Regions from separate parts of the Homo sapiens genome. Here region 1 is linked to region 2. The links come from fine-mapping of genetic effects on gene expression. Tissue or cell type: whole blood. Region 2 holds a variant in brackets; the other region holds the start of a gene. All regions are shown on one strand. Distances are from middle to middle.

What was found. PIP is the estimated chance that this variant, and not a neighbour inherited with it, causes the effect.
Region 1: it holds the start of PSMD6-AS2, and the variant in region 2 is fine-mapped to the expression of PSMD6-AS2 in whole blood (TOPMed, PIP above 0.99).

Annotation. Positions count from the first base shown.
Region 1 is chr3:64,000,266-64,008,265 of GRCh38, reverse strand. PSMD6-AS2 (PSMD6 antisense RNA 2) reads right to left here and starts at 4,244. Exons shown (of 3, transcript NR_038286.1): 1 at 2,198-4,244. ATXN7 (ataxin 7) reads right to left here. Exons shown (of 13, transcript NM_001377405.1): 13 at 4,804-8,000. RefSeq lists an enhancer at 7,321-7,822.
Region 2 is chr3:63,879,283-63,887,878 of GRCh38, reverse strand. The region is part of intron 1 of ATXN7 (ataxin 7); the gene reads right to left. Among named protein-coding and RNA genes, the nearest start is that of ATXN7, 20 kb to the right of the region's middle. The variant T/G (reference allele first, on the strand shown) is at 4,651.

The DNA.
Region 1 (8,000 bases), 120 kb before region 2:
TTTTTCATGTTGGTAAATGTTTTCTTTTGAAGTGGGAAACAATCTTATTTTTAACCCTGGTTTCAGTCAAAAGTAACTATCCTAGTGTGAAATGATATCGCCAGGATAAACTATCTTTTGTGATTATTTTTAAAGCAGAAATGCCAGTTTCTCTTACCTCAGTAAAAGTTGATTTTATAGCAAATCTATCGAGTAAGAGCTAAATATTTTAAAGCTATGTCAAATTATGGTAATCTATTTCCTGTATTAGAAATAACAGCTTTAGGTCAATTTTTAAGCTATTAAAAAACAGTGTCTCTTAGGACAGAAACAGTGTAAAAACCACTTTTGTTAAGCACCCAACTTTTACCTGCCCCAGATGGCTAGAAGGATGCCTACAACTTGATCACTAAGCATGCAATACTCAATACACTTAGGATTTTGTGACTGAACACATTTGGTCTTTTATAACCTGACCAAACATTAACTGATAAAAGGCTACTAAATCATTAGCAAATCATTTCTGTAATTTCATATTCTGAATTAGTCCTTGGTGCTGCTGTTAACCTAATGTTTTTAAGATGAACAGCTGACAGCTGAAATATCTGCCCCCATGATTATGGGGGAAAAAGCGTGGAGGGAACTATGATAATCCCTGACCTTCCCAATGCTACATAAACTTGTAGTTGCTGGTAACAAACCTGTGCCTCCACAATGGCAATGGGGGAGTGGGGTAAAATCCCCATCTGGATAACATGAAAAGCTCTGATAATCACTAGTTTTGGTTTCAAAGCTGTAGAGCCACAGATTTGCATTATGCTTGTGTTTCTGAAGGAATACAAAGGCTATCAGGAATTTGTAGCAATCTGATCCAGGCCATTTTAACCTTGACATACATGGTCAAAGGGTATAACCTTTTTTTTTTTTTTTTTTTTTTCCCCATTTAAAAATATCTTACAGTGGCATAACTTTCCCTGTACAAATTGGGTTTAAGAAACAAAAGGGACAATTTGCTAATCAATGATGAGCCTTTAATCCAACCATTATATATCCCCTTTCCATCCTTAGATCCCTTGAAGAGACCATTTAGTTAAGACTACCAACAGGTGACACCCTGACCTCCTTACCAACCTTGCCTTTTAGAGGTGACCAGAGACCTGTGCTTTTCCAAAGTACTGTTATACGTGTAATTAGTATAATATCAATGTGGGGAAACTCTACCTTTGGATTTTGAGGACTCTGCTTTTCTTGAAACCCTCTGGGTTAGAGACTGTTTATTCATATGCACCTCAGGAACTTGAGGCCAAGATGAAGTTCACTGTTTCCTAGTCCTTTGCTTGTTCTCCTGGCCATTATGTTTCCACCTTCATTCAAAATGCCTTCTCTTTGAAGCTGCTTATAACCCAGCAACACCATCAACTCACTGTGCTCACTGTCCTCAATCACACATCTCCAAGTCACTCTCCCCTCTTCCATGCAAATCATCCCAGAACCAAGCAACCCTAATTTGAAATGGACAACCTATACAACACCCTTGGCTTCACAGTTCCTCAGCCTGAATTCCAGTGCTCTTTTCCTCCATGCTGCTTCTGTCCACTGCCATGGTTTCCACCCAGGAATCACAAGCACCTCTGGCCAGTTCTGCTTTTGAAAATAATACTGGAATTCCAATTCCTCTGGCCAGTTCTGCTTTTGAAAGTAATACTGGAATTCCAATTCCTCCATTCCCTGTCCTATTCCTAAAAGTGCTGTATCACTTTGATAACTCTGGCCCCTGGATCTCACCTTGTAGCCCCTCACTTTTATTGGCCATGTGGAATTAAATGTGGACTTTGCTCTGTGACCCTGAACAAATCAATTGTCTAATCATAGAAAAAGTTACCTGGAAGGAGATTCCTAAGACCTAACAAGAAGATAATTCCAGTCAAACCAATGTCTTAAGAGCACCTGCATAGATTCTACATGGTTGGCTTCTAGTTCTCTTCCCTGAATACCCAGTTCAGACCATCATCAATCACTCAGCCACATCTTCACTCTTTGGCAATCTCCCTGCTCAAGTTCTATCTTTTCCACCCAACCAATACATGCTGTTCCAATTATCCTGGAGAAAACAGCAGGGCAATAAAACGTTAACTAAATAGGTAGATAGCATTGGTAATTATAATGGGATTGACTCAAAACATCTAACCCTGTAAACCATCTCAATGCCTTCCCTTACCTCTCTTTTTACTCTACTGCTCCTTCTCCATTTGTCTTCATGAAAATAGTCTTCTCCAAGGTTTTGTCCTGGGTTTTCTCTCTGGGCCATGGAGGATGGGCTTCAGGTTTGTGATATCCTGGAAGCGGAATATAAAAATGTGGTGTGCCTGTGCCTCGGTCAGACAGGATGCATAACTTCATGTGACTCCTGGAGTCTGAGGAGGGAAAAAATTAAGAATCACTGTTCTGACAGACCTGAATTACCCTGGATCTGCCACCTATTCGTTGTGGGACCTTAAGCAAGATACCTTCTTAGGAGTTCCAATCAGTATGATTGGAATCAAAATACCTGCCCTATGAGGGCTTAGTAAAAGAGAGGATGTATATAAAATGCTTGGCACAGTATCTGGCATATTAAGTACTTCACTAGAGAAGTATTATTTTAACATAATAATAAGCCAAATCGAATAGCTACTTAATTTTCCCAGGTAAACTCCATCTACCCTTATGACCTCACTGATGATCTAAAACTGAAAGACAACTCTCCATCTTTATTTTCCAGCTCAAACCTCCCTCCTAAAGTCCAACCAGCCTGTACAGCCAGCTGGGCACTAAACCAGAATTTCCCACCAGCAGCTCAAATCTATCGTTATGTCTTTTTCCTTCTCTGTTACCATATCGCACATTTCACTTAAAGCTCAATTGGTTTGGCCAAGCTAGAAACCTGAAGTCTTCTTAGACTCACTCTTCCCTTTAATGTTGAACAGAGTTAGACCTCAAGGCTTGTTGGTTCTACTTTTTAAAGATTTCTGAAATCAGTATCACTTATCCTCACAGTCAGCCTTCGTTTGGAAACTTAATAGCTCTTACCTGGATTACAACAGCTTTGTAACTTATTTTTGTCCCAAGGTTCTCACCTGTTGATTCTGTCTTCCATTGTTATTGGAGGGCCATAGGTGGCAGAGATGTTTTTTCCACAAAGTATTAAATTATAAGTGATTCTCCCCTTCCCCCTGGAGACTTTTTCTTTGGCTGATAGCCTCACTCTCCCTTACCTCCTAAGAGATATTCTGGTCCATGGTCTTTGGATGTAGAAAATGAGGATAACAAGTGCCAAGAATTACAGCCTTACAAGGTGAAATACTACTTTAATTAACTTCCATTAACAACAGGAGCAAGAACTTCTTACAGAAAGAGGAGACTAAGAAAGGAGTGAGAAGGGAGAGGAACTTAAGAGTTGATTTAGGGGAGTGCTTTTTGTTAGGACTGGGGACAGGGGCAGGTAAAGACAGATCTTTGAAGCAAAAGAGAGTGAGAATGCAAGACATGGGGAAAGAGACTTAAGTGCTCCTTTGCTTTTCCACAGTTTTCAGTACAGATTTGAATGGCTTTGACTTTTGGCAGCTGCACAGTGCTAGGACTGGACCATGAAATATCTCTGGGCTCTGACAATTACATTTGGGTTAATCTAAGCCTGATCCCATGTGTTCCTGGAAGAGAAGCCCCATGACATTCAAAGTCCTTGACAATCTGACACCAGCTTTTCTAACCCTATAAGGCCCTTCCATCCAGCAAACTTCCTGCAGAATTATTCTCTATCCCTCACATGTTCATACCCATGCTCGACGCATTTGCTCTCTCTGCCTAGAATCTTACTCTTGTCTGCCTTTCTGCCTGGTTAAATCCCACATACGCCAAGATCCAACACTGCTAAACCCCTTTCCTTGAGTTGGGATCATCTTGTTATGCAGGGCCGGGATACCTGCAAGGGAATGGAATTAAAAAGGTTAAGAGATTGAGCAGTTGAACCTTTTCTTGGGAGGTTTGAGGACAAGCCATAGTGAAAGGATTTACCTACAGAGAGCACCTCATTATTAGATTTGTGGAAAGTACTGAGTGGATGGTTGACTCAAGTAAGGAGGGAATGGGAAGTCCACAGGGCAGTAGGAACTGAAGCCAACATGACTCTTTCATATCAGGTATGGACATTCTTGCTAACACACAGCGGTTCCTCCTCTTATTTTAAGCAACAAAAATAATTTATCAGAATGGTTTATTTGCAAACAGTAAAAATGTCTGGATTTCTAGAGGTAAATGATTATGCTGTGTTCCAAATAATACTAAAATGCACTTGTATTGCCAGTAAGGGAGGTATGTAAAAGAAAGGAAGAGATTAGACCGGGTCTGGATAAAAAGCTTATCTTAAACCAAAACTACATGTCATCAAATTTGCACCTAAGTACAAATAGAATGTGTTTCTCAATCCATCAACTCCCTCGTTTCTTTCACAAACATGCAAGGCCAGAATACAGTAATGTTCACTGTTTACACAGTTACTAATTTATCCAAAGCAAAGCTTTGTGCCCCCAGATGGAAACATCCCCAGGCCTTAGAAGTATTTAGCTTATATAAGAGGAAGGCTAAATTGAAGGGGCTTCACAAGGGTGTTCCATGCCAAAAGTGATGAAAAGTCAGAGTAGACTGAAAGGGTTTAGTATCACAACGAGGCAGAAACGTACAATATTTCATGCAGCCAACCTTATTTATTGAGAAGTCCTAATTTTATTGCCCGTTTAGTAACATGTTTGTTCCACAAGCTAATTTCTTATAAAGCAAAGCACAACCTTTTCTTATAAATAGTATAAATTATTTTATTTACAGAAACTTGTTACAAAACAAATAGACTATATATTTCTTCTCTTTTAAATATCCAAAGTAATTTTCTATCCCTTGACATTTGTTCATGTTCTATACAGCAGCCAACACAAAGTCCAGCTGAGATGCTCTTGATTATGTGTACAAATTATCAAACTATTCACACGTTTTTAACACAGGAGATTGCTTTTATAACCAAGCTCAAAAAAAAAAAAAAAAAAAAAAAAGCAAAATGCTTTCAAGGCCCTACATTCACACTGACAGTATGTAGTGCTCATTTAAATTATCTGAAAATGTAAAATGTTTTGCACAAAATGTAAAAGTGATTATTTTCTGCTAAACAAACTTTTAAGAATATTTTTTCAAAGCCCAATCGCCCCAAACCCCCTGGACAGAATGAGCGACATTAAGAAATTCCTTGGCAACAGAACTCTTGCAGGAAGACAGCTGCCCTTATAAGTTACATTTTTCAAATTATACATTTTTTTCAATGTTCTCAGAGGTACTTCTTTGTATTATATTTTTGGAATACAAAATATTTTAAATATTTTAAATTGTATTTCATGAGTGAATAACAAAACGGACACATCGTGTAAGTTGCTGGCTGACAAAAAGATCTGTAACCCTTGGTGCCACCAGGCAATCCATCACCAATTGAATTACTATGAACCAAGAGGTCTTAATTTTAAAATACCTTATAAAATTACCAGCATTGGTGGTTTTCAACTCCGCCCCTAAAATTTTAGAAACAATATTTAGGTGGAAAAAGCAAACTCCAAAAGTTCAACTGAACATTCAAGTCTTTTTAAAGAGATTCTGTCTAAGCTTAAAACTAGTTTCAGGCACTTTCAGTTTTTTCCATTAGTTTTAAACCACATCACATAGTAACATACATGTGCTGAGTATACACACACACGCACAGGCACACACACACGCAGTCACATACTCCCACACATAAAATACTAACAAAAGAAAAGCAGTGTGTCACTTAGTTACATGTAGTCTATCGGGAAACCAGGCAACCAGGAAGAAGCAATGCCCACTTCATCTGTATGAATCCACTCCCGAGACACTAAAAGGGACAAAGACTTTTCACAGAACAGAGGCATCCCTTAAAACTGTAAAGGAGGCAGGTTCTAGAACTATTGGCTTGGCAGTGAACCACTTCAAATTATAAAAAGGTATTTACTTTTATTAATTAATAAATAAATACTAGATGATCTCAATTGTACCAAAACAGGATATCAGAAAAAAAGACCTGTGCAAAAATACATATTTAAATATGTACAATTCATTTTTAACAAAATATGTCTTCTGAAATAGGGATACTTCCATATTTATAATAGAACAAGAAATTCCAAAATAAAGATACAAAAGTAGGTTTTGTATAATTCTTTGTTCATCATTGCAGCACTTTTTTTTTTTTTTTGTAGGTTAAGAAAACTGCAGGAGTTGTCATGAAATTCTATTGGAAAGAATATAAAAATTATCTTGGTTTTAAATTGATACCAAAGTCTGTCTAGAAACAACCCAACCACTGCAAATTTGGTTTTTGCAAGTTAATTTAATTCAAAAAAATACTTGTACTCCCGTGTTTTAAATGGTCTTAATTATTCATCACCATAAAAAGTAGTTTAGGAGAAAATAAAATATTTGAACAACAGTCTAAAATTTAATAGCACTGTTTAGAATAGGTCTGTTTGTGGCAGACAGAATCCAAAATGGCTAATTTCCTAATCCCGATGCTCTGTGTATTACCGGGAGAAATAATGAAATTCATTTAAAACCTCAGTCTAAGAAATCAAATGTTCAATACTTGCTAATCTAAATATCTACATTAGTCTGAATCAACTTGTTATTGTGGATCCTATTCACATCTTTCGGAACAACATGATCGATCTGTAAATTCCATTGCTAAAGGCAACTTTATTTATAACCATCAAGTCCTCTTGGCTCTGAAAATAAATTCTACCCATACCCCATTGCACTTGTCACCAAGGAATCAACTAGGTACGTTCTGATTCCCTCTCACCTCTCTCTTCCCCGACTGGGATGGAAACCAGACTGATTTCTCCCAACTATGCCAAACTGGCCCATCCATGCCCTCTCCTTACTAAGCTCTCCTGTAGTATCATTTTAAAAACATTTACTGATTGATTGCATAATAATTGAACAAGATACTGTTCTCTCCTTCCTTTAAAAAAATCAGTATTTTACATCAATTTATAGCTAAAGTATCTGCATAAAGTTTTTGTTTTCTTACATAATAAGAATAATTCTGTAGCAATTCACATTATTAGGCTGGTAACCAAGTTTATTCATTCTACCTGTTGTTGACTTGAAATTCCCTGAAACTGAAGTTTGAAACCCAAGAACTGTAGGAAAAAAAGAATGTACTGACTGGCTCTCATCAGGCCCTGGCCAGGGCAACGATCAGCGCCTTGGAAATTTTACCCTGTGTTCGGCAACTTCGTGTGTTCTTCTAAGCAACAGTGCCTGTTACTCGTGTCAGGAGCCTGTAGTGGTGGAAGCACCCATTTAAAGGCTCCGGCTCGTCCCGGAATTCAATGACACCTTCTCCAAGCAATGCTGTTTTAACATATTAAGGTCTTTCTTTAGGGGTGGGGGGTGGGGTACTAGAAAAAATATCCTAGAGGGCTCCAAAACTCTCAGGAAGATGGCTGGTATAATCCCAAGAAAGGAGGGTGTGTGTCAGGGCAATCCTATACATGCATCACAAAAGACCTTCAGGTCAGGACTTACATTCTCTCCAACTCCCTTTCCTTGGTGTCTGCTCTCGTCCCCAACCACATCCAAATAAACATCTGAAGTGGCATGAAGGGGAGTGCATACAAAAACACACAATGCCAGAAGTGCTTGAAGCAGAAATCTACACTTAGTCCCAGGACAGTATCCAAAGAGAAAAACAAGGGTAATGTAGAGAGTGCCTTGGAAACATTTAAGTGTATCTAATAATGTCACTTTAAAAGGTGACTTTTAAAAATAGACCAGGTAGGACAACCAACCCAATCTGCCATACTGTTTACTATGAAAACTTAAAAGGATTAAGAAAATTTCATCTCTTTGGAAATCTTGAAAAAAGTTTTTTCTCCCTATAGTGATTTTAACTTCCTCACTCCCACCCTCCCCCGACCCAATTTGGCCTT
Region 2 (8,596 bases):
GACAGAGGCTGAGGACAGCGATACACATCTGTAATCCCAGCACTTCGGGAAGCTGAGGCAGGTGGATCGTTTGAGACCTGCCTGGGCAACATGGTGAAACTCTGTCTCTACAAAAAAATACAAAAATTAGCTGGGTGTGGTGACACATGCCTGTAGTCCCTGCTACTTGGGAGACTGAGGTGGGAGGATCACTTGAGCCTGGGAGGTTGAGGCTGCAGTGAGCTGAGATAGTGCTACCATACTCCAGCCTGGGTGGCAGAGTGAGACCCTGTCTAGAAAAAATAATAAAATAAAATAAATAATAAAACAGAGATCCATCTAACAGATACTTTAAACATAATTTAAAAATGAAAAAATATTTTGAGGTTTCTATGTGCTAATCAAGATGTCACTGTGCTTATGTTTATACGTAATTTCCAAAATATATTATTAGACTTATGTGACTACGAAACAATAGACTTCTTAAAATGTATACATGGCAATAGTTTCTACACTTCAAACATCTCTCTGGCTAAATTAATACAAATTTTTGCAATGTGCCAATAATAAATAAGAGACAAAAAGAATTCCAGAAGCTGGGAGATGCAAATTAAACAAAGCCAGTGTAAGTCATTTCCACTAGGTTTCAGACAGAGATCTTTTATCACTGGTTGAAATATAACATTCTGGCACTACATCACAAACATGCCCCCTGATTCCCTGTATCTCACACCTAACGGGCTCAATACCAGTTCGTCATGACTCTGAATCTAAAGAGACATTGGCAGCACTTCATAAATACCTTCCTGTTCGCTCCTTTCTATGGTGATGCAATTTGACCTACATTTCCAGTGCCCATTGAAACTTCATGGGAGTGGGAAGATGAGAGTTTTTCATTTCTCCTACCCTCTGATTAACTAGGACAGCAAATGCCACTCAAGGGACTGCTACTGGGCAGAAGCAAAGGGGAAAAAAGTCATGCCAGTAGGAAATTCCACAGGAGGACATTTAGAAATACTGCATTCTCTGATTCTGCAAACAAACTGTCATGGCTTTATAAGACAACAGCAAGGAAGAACTGCCCCACTTTACACCATAATAAGACCAGAACACTAAGGACTATTTTATTTACCTCAGGCTCCCTACGGGATGAAAATTAAACTTGAACTATAGACTATTGTCCTTGCCATAGTCTTTTTTAAAAATAAACTTTCAATTTTGGGATGACTTTGAATTTACAGAAAAGTTGCAAAGATTATACAGAGAGTTCCTGTAAACCTGACACCTGGTTTTCCCTATTGTTAACCTCTTATGTAAGTATAGTATCTTTGTCACAGCTAATGAACCAATACCAACATGTGATTATTTATTTTCCTCCAGCTTTAAGGCATGAGTGACAAAATTGTACAGTGTAAATATGATCTTTTATGTATATATTATAAAATAATTAAATCAAGCTAATGAGCATATCTGTCACCTCATCTTTTGGGGGGTGAGAACATTTAAGATCTACTCTCAGCAATTTTCAAGTATACAGTATTATTAACTATAGTCACCATTACTGTGTAACAGATTCCTAGAACTCATTCATCCTAACTGAAACTTGTACTCTTTGATCAACATCTCCCCATTTCCCTCACCACTCCCCCAACTCCCAGCCTCTGGCAACCATTATTCTACTCTCTGCTTCTGTGGTTCAATGTTTTTAGATTCCACATGTAAGTGAGATTCCTGCAGTATTTGTCTTTCTGTGTCTGGCTTATTTCACTTAATATCCTCCAGGTTCACCCATGTTGTCAAAAATGAAAGGATTTCCTTCTTTTTTAAAGCTGAACAGTCTTACATTATTTGCATATATACACTGGATATCACATTTTCTTTTCCTTTTTTTGTTTGAGACCCAGTCTCGCTCTGGAGTATAGTGGCGTGATCCCAGCTCACTGCAAACTTCACCTCCCAGGTTGAAGCGATTCTCCTGGCTCAGCCTCTCAAGTAGCTGGGACTACAGGTGCATGCTACCATGCCCTGCTAATTTTTTGTATTTTTAGTAGAAATGGGGTTGCACCATGTTGGCCCGGCTAGGTTGAACTCCTGGTCTCAAATGATTCACCTACCTTGGCCTCCCAAAGTGCTGGGATTACAGGCATGAGCCACTGTGCCTGGCCTAAATATCACATTTTCTGTATCCATTCATCCATTGATGGATACCAAGATTGACTCCATATCTTGGCTATTGTGAATAATGCTGCAATGAACATGGGAGTGCAGATACCTCTGTGACATACTGATTTCCTTTGGATATATATGCAGAAGTAGGACTGATGGGTCATATAGTTCTTTTCTATTTTTAATTTTTTGAGAAACCTCCATACTGTTTTTCTTAATGGCTGTACTATAATTTACATCCCCACTACCAATGTACAAAGATTCCCTTTTCTCCACATACTAACCAATACTTGTTATCTTCTGTCTTTTTGAATAGCCATTCTAACAGGAGTGAGGTGATATCTCACTGTGGTTTTAACTTGCATGTCCCTGATGATTAGTGATATTGAGCATCTTTTCATATACCTGTTGGCCATCTGTACGTCTTGTCAATTCAGTTTCTTTCTCCTTTTTTAATTGGGTTATCTGTTTTGTTATTGAGTTCCTTATATATTTTAGATATCAACCCCTTATCAGATATATGGTTTGCAAATATTTTCTCCCATAGTGTTGATTGTCTTTTCACTCTGTTGACTATTTCCTTTGTTATACAGAAGCTGTTTTAGTTTGATGCAACCCCATTTTTCTATTTTTTGGTTACCTGTGCTTTTGGGGTGATATCCAAAAAGTCACTGCCCAGGCCAATGTCAGGAAGCTGTCTCTTTCCTCCCTTTTCATATTGCACTCTTTGGAAGGAAGTCACTAGGCACAGCTCAGACTTAAAAGATGGGCAGTGGGCTGGGCGTGGTGGCTCACAACTGTAATCCCAGCATTTTGGGAGGCTGAGGCAGGTGAATCGCTTGAGCCCAGGAGTTCAAGACCAGCTTGGGCAACATGGCAAAATCCCATCTCTATAAAAAATACAAAAAAAAAAAAAATTAGCTGGGCATGGTGGCACACACCTGTAGTTCCAGCTACTCGGAGGCTGAGGTGGGAAGACACCCTTGAGCCCAAGAGACAGAGGTTGCAGTGAGCTAAGATTGTGCCACTGCACTCCAGCCTGGGTGACAGATGGAGAACCTGATCCCCCCCAAAAAAATAAGAAAGAAAAAAAAAAAGATTGGCAGTGATGTTCCATCTCCTTGAGAGATGATTATCTGCATAAATCATTTGGAGTTCTTTTATATTAAAGATTTATCTATTCTCTCCCATTTGCTTATTTATCCAACCATTTATTTATACCAGTATGGCCTCATGGATATTTATGATTTTATATCACATATTATTTGTTTATATGTTTATATGAGCCTTTAAAAATATATATACTGTATATTTTATTTACATTTATTTTATATATTGGGTTACAATCTAATACTATGTTTTTTAGCTGCTCAAATTGTTCTAGGTTTGACCTTTGGGAGCTCTTTCAGTTGTCTCTTTGGTCCCTCTGACACACCCCATCATTGTGTGTGGAGAGAGAGAGAGTGAATGAGTGTGTGTGTGTGTGAGAGTATGTGTGTGTGTGTGTGTGTGTGTGTGTGTGTGTGTGTGCGCATGTTATTTTCTTACTTTCTGGAGCTAGAAGATACTACAGGCTCATATTGTTTATTCCCTGTCTCAGGCACAGAATCTCCTTTTAATGGAGAATGGTATTAGAAACCAAGATCTGGACACTGGGTCTTAATGTTTGACACTTTAAAATTTCTACATGAACTACTTCTATAGTAAATGAACAAAATTATCTCTTCAAGTATCTTCCTTTTGTGGCATAAAATAATAAATCACAAAAAGGATGCTTGGTAATCAATCAAGCTTGGTAATCAGGCTACCATCTGACTTTCAGGTTTGACAGGGTAAATAAATATCCTAATCAACCTCCCCCAGGAGAAAAAAATATTTTTTTTTCTGTTGTTGGGGGAAACAAGAAGAAATCTAGAATTAAATGCTACTTGTTTGCTATTCTATGCAATAAGGTATCCTATTTTCTCCCCTTAATACTAAATGATACTTCCTTGGTGTCAACTCTTAATTACCTGAGCTAAGGGTAAACAGAAATATCAATCAGATCTGGCTTTGAAATACACTCGTGATGACTTATGGCAGTTATACCTTCCTATTTATGTTTAAATAGAATAGTTACATAGGATTATTTAGGATAGTCACACCTATCTTATTTGCATATTTTAATGTTACAACTAGTTTGTTTTTTTTTTTAATTGGGAATAAATGAATCAGCTGAACACAAACACAGAGCCTGGAGCTTCTTGAGCAGCAGGGGTACCTAGTGGGAAGTGAACAGATTTCTAGAGATAACTAAATTGCCCAGACTGGAGTTAATCCCATGCAACACACACTGGACAATTCTTCACCTCAGCCTTCAACCAACCATTAACCTGCAATATTAACAAATGGACTATGCTAATAAAATCTCTGGTGACCTCAGACTTTTTTAAAGTCTGGGGCCAGGATCTAATACTGCTTTTCTCTATCTTTTTTTCACTTGGTCTGATTCAGATTTATATTCAA[T/G]AAACATTTACTGAGCCTCTACTATCCACCAGGCAGCACACCATGCCTAGTGCTTCCAATTAATCCAATAATGAGAAAAAATTAAGGGCCCTGTTTCCATTTTTCCCTTCCAGCAGAACTGCTGAGGTTGATGGAAGGTAAGCCAAGCCTTTACAATGCTGAAGGCTCAACAAGTTTTGGTGTCCATGTCTATAGCTGTCTAATAACACCTTAGAAAGAAAAGACCTCAACCTTTATCTGTAAAATAGATACTGTATAATCAAACCTACTTCTCAGGAAGAATGCATGGAAAACACACTCCTGGCACACACCACGAGCTCTTTAAGTACTGGCTCATGTTCATATTATGCATTTCATCTATGTGTTCATCCTAAACACATCTAGGAAACACCAAAACTGCCTCACTAAGGTGTTCGTTGCCTTTTTTAATTGCCAGTTTTACTTTCTAAGATCCTAAAATCATGATCTTTAAAAATGTCAGCACCTATGTCCCAATCAACCTGTCTGATAAATAAACAACACATATTCATTTAAGAGGCCAGAGGTCAAGTTTGGTGGCTCACACCTGTAATCCCAGCACTTTGGGAGGCCAAGGCAGGTGAATTACCTTAAGACAGCCATTCAAGATCAGCCCGGCCAACATGGTGAAATCGGTCTCTACTAAAAATAAAAAAAAATTAGCTGGGCATGGTGGCACATGTCTACATTCCCAACTACTTGCGAGACTGAGACACGAGAATTGCTTGAACCTGTGAGGCGGAGGTTGCAGTGAGCCAAGATTGTGCCACTGCACTCCAGCCTGGGTGACAGAGAAGACTCCGACCCAAAAAAAAAAAAAAAAAAGAATCAAAGGCCAGAATGGATAGGTCATATTAAAAACAATAACCGTTAATGTTGCCTAAAAGTTCATTTTATACCATGCACTGTGTAAATGTTGCACGACAAGCTGACAAGATAGATATTTTAACTATCTCTAATTTCCAGATGAGAAACAGGCTAGAGAGGTGAAGTAACTTGTGTAAGGTTGCCATCCATCTGGGTTAGGGAATCTGTCCCCAAAGGAAAACAGTAACAGCAGCAGCAAAATTATACTGCTGCAACTAAACATAAAAATCCATTCCTCACCTCACAATGCTGGTTCCTTTTCAAACACTGTCACACTGGGTGCAGCAGAATGAAATTATTAGTTAAAATGTGTTCTTTGCTAGAGATGCAAACTGAGAGAAGGGCTTTGGATACTTCTGCCCCCAAGATGGACTCCAAATTGGGACTTCCTGCTTCCAAAGTATTTTCAACAAATAAAATCCATCAAGGACTCCCCACAGTGTTTAGCAGAAAGTAACTCCCTGGCCTAGCCTGGCCCAGCAGCCGGTAAGCCCCTTTACTTTACTCTCTGGCCCAACCTTATAGTTCTTAGCCCTGTAGAATGCTCCAATCAAGCGGCTGGGTGCAGTGGCTCACGCCTGTAATCCCAACACTCTGGGACGCCAAGGCGGGCAAATCACGAAGTCAGGAGTTCAAGACCAGCCCGACCAACATGGTGAAACCCTGTCTCTACTAAAAATACAAAAAATTAGCTGGGCATAGTGGTGGGCACCTATAATCCCAGCTTCTCAGGAGGCTGAGGCAGGAGAATCATTTGAACCCAGGAGGCAGAGGTCGCAGTGAGCTGAGATTGCACCACTGCACACCAGCCCAGGCGACAGAGCGAGACTCCGTCTCAAAAAAAAAAAAAAAAAAAAAATGCTCCAACCACAATGAACAAGGCCAGTTTCCAGCACACTGAAAAGTTCTCTTAGAGTATTTGCACTTCTGGCTGCTTCTAGACCCAACTAACTTCTTCAGAAATCAGTTTAGAGGTCACTTATCTCTTCAAATAGGCAGAGTTAATCCCATACCGATTCCCTAAAATGGTTTAGGAGATTCCAAACCTACTCCCTCCTCAACCTCAGCATTCTCAGCATTGGTACTACTCAATCACAAAAAGGCATGGCTAAGAGTAATCCATTTTTTTGAATTAAACAGACCAGAGTTTAAATCCTGTTTTCTATTTTCAAACTATGTGACCTCAAGCAAATCTTTTCACTTCTCTGATGGGGTTTAACTGAAAAGATAATGCAAGTAAAGCACAGTCTGGCACATACTAACTGCTCAATAAATGATAGCCATTATCATCATTATTCCCATTCTACAGATAACAAATTGCGACTCCAAGAAGCAAACCACTAAAGGTCACACAACTGGTGAGTAGTAGGGGTTGGGTTGAAAGCAGTTCTTTTTCCCTTTTTTGCAAGTATCTATTGAGCGCCATGCTCAGCACTGAGGAGACAGCTGTGAAACAGACAGCAATGAACGCTGTTCTCATGGTGTTTACTTCTAGTAGGAAAGAAAGCCATAAAACCTTTACACAAATAAATTGAAAGAGTGCTTTGAATGAGAAGGGCGGCGTGTCTGAATACACAGGGTTTTAAAGCAAGTAACAAAGTCACTGAATTTTGTCTAGAAGGTCAGGGAAGGCTTCTGTGAAGAGGTGGCATTTAAAGGAGGCAAAAAGGTATGAGGGAGATGAGGGTGGCAGCAAGCACCCCAGACAAATGAAATCTCAGTAGAAAAGACATTGAGGAAGAACAGCAAGTTCAAGGAACTAAAAAGCCAGAGCACTTGGTGAGACAGAAGATGCAGGCAGGGCCAGATCAGAGGACCACTGAAAGATCTGTTCAAAGTTTTGGATATCATCCTTCCTCTAGGCAATGGAAAGGCACCAAAAGACTGGCTGCCCTTAAGGAAACAGCAATGAAAGGCTCACTCTGACACCAACTCCTTGAGTCAGGGCTATCTGGCACTTTTTTCATCTGTACTTCTAGGACACGGCAACTGTAGACTTTTGATAAATATTTGTGACCTGTCTAAAAGAATCTCTGATAAAGACAGACTACATCACTTTTCCCTCTTTTTTAGTCCCACAGCTGATGCTTTTATTAAAGCACCAATTATTATAGGTAAGTGTGGACCTCTTTTCACCATTCATATTTACAGAGTAAATATTCATCTTCCCATTTCTCAAACCTCAAAACTCAATAAAGTTATGGACTAAAACAGACTCTCTTTTGATAAGCTAAAAATCTGTTCTTTTTTTCTTTTTTGATACGGAGTCTTGCTCTGTTGCCCAGGATAGAGTGCAGTGGCGCGATCTCAGCTCACCGCAACCTTTGCTTCCCGGGTTCAAGCAATTCTCTTGCCTCAGCCTCCCGAGTAGCAGGGATTACAGGCACGTGCCACCACACCCGGCTAATTTTTTGTATTTTTTTTAGTAGAGATGGGGTTTCACCATGTTATCCAGGATGGTCTTGATCTCCTGACCTCGTGATCCACCTGCCTCGGCCTCCCAAAGTGCTAGGATTACAGACATGAGCCACCGCGACTGGCCACATCTGTTCTTGTATTTCTAGATCGGTGGAATAAGAATCTTTTTGCTAATTCACTCTGCCTTATAAAGATCACCTGAGGTCCGGAGTTCGAGACTAGCTTGGCCAACATAGTGAAACCCCGTCTCTACTAAAAATACAAACATTAGCTGGGTATGGTGGCACACGCCTGTAATCCCAGCTACTCGGGAGGCTGAGGCAGGAGAATCGCTTGAACCCAGGAGGCAGAGGTTGCAGTGAGCCGAGATCGCGCCACTGTACTTCATTTAGCCTGGGTGACAGAGCAAGACTCTATTTAAAAAAAAAAAAAAAAAAACTGAAGAGATAATCCATAAGGACTTAAGTTGCACTTTCCTTTTGCACCTTAACCTTAATAATAAAAAACACATTTCAGCAATGTGTCATTAAAAGTACAAGTTTTATATTTTAAGATAAATCACTTGTACAGTTCATATGCATATTTTTTAAATGTTAGTTTAATTTTAACCAAGAACAAAATGCCCCAACAGAAGGTCTTTCAG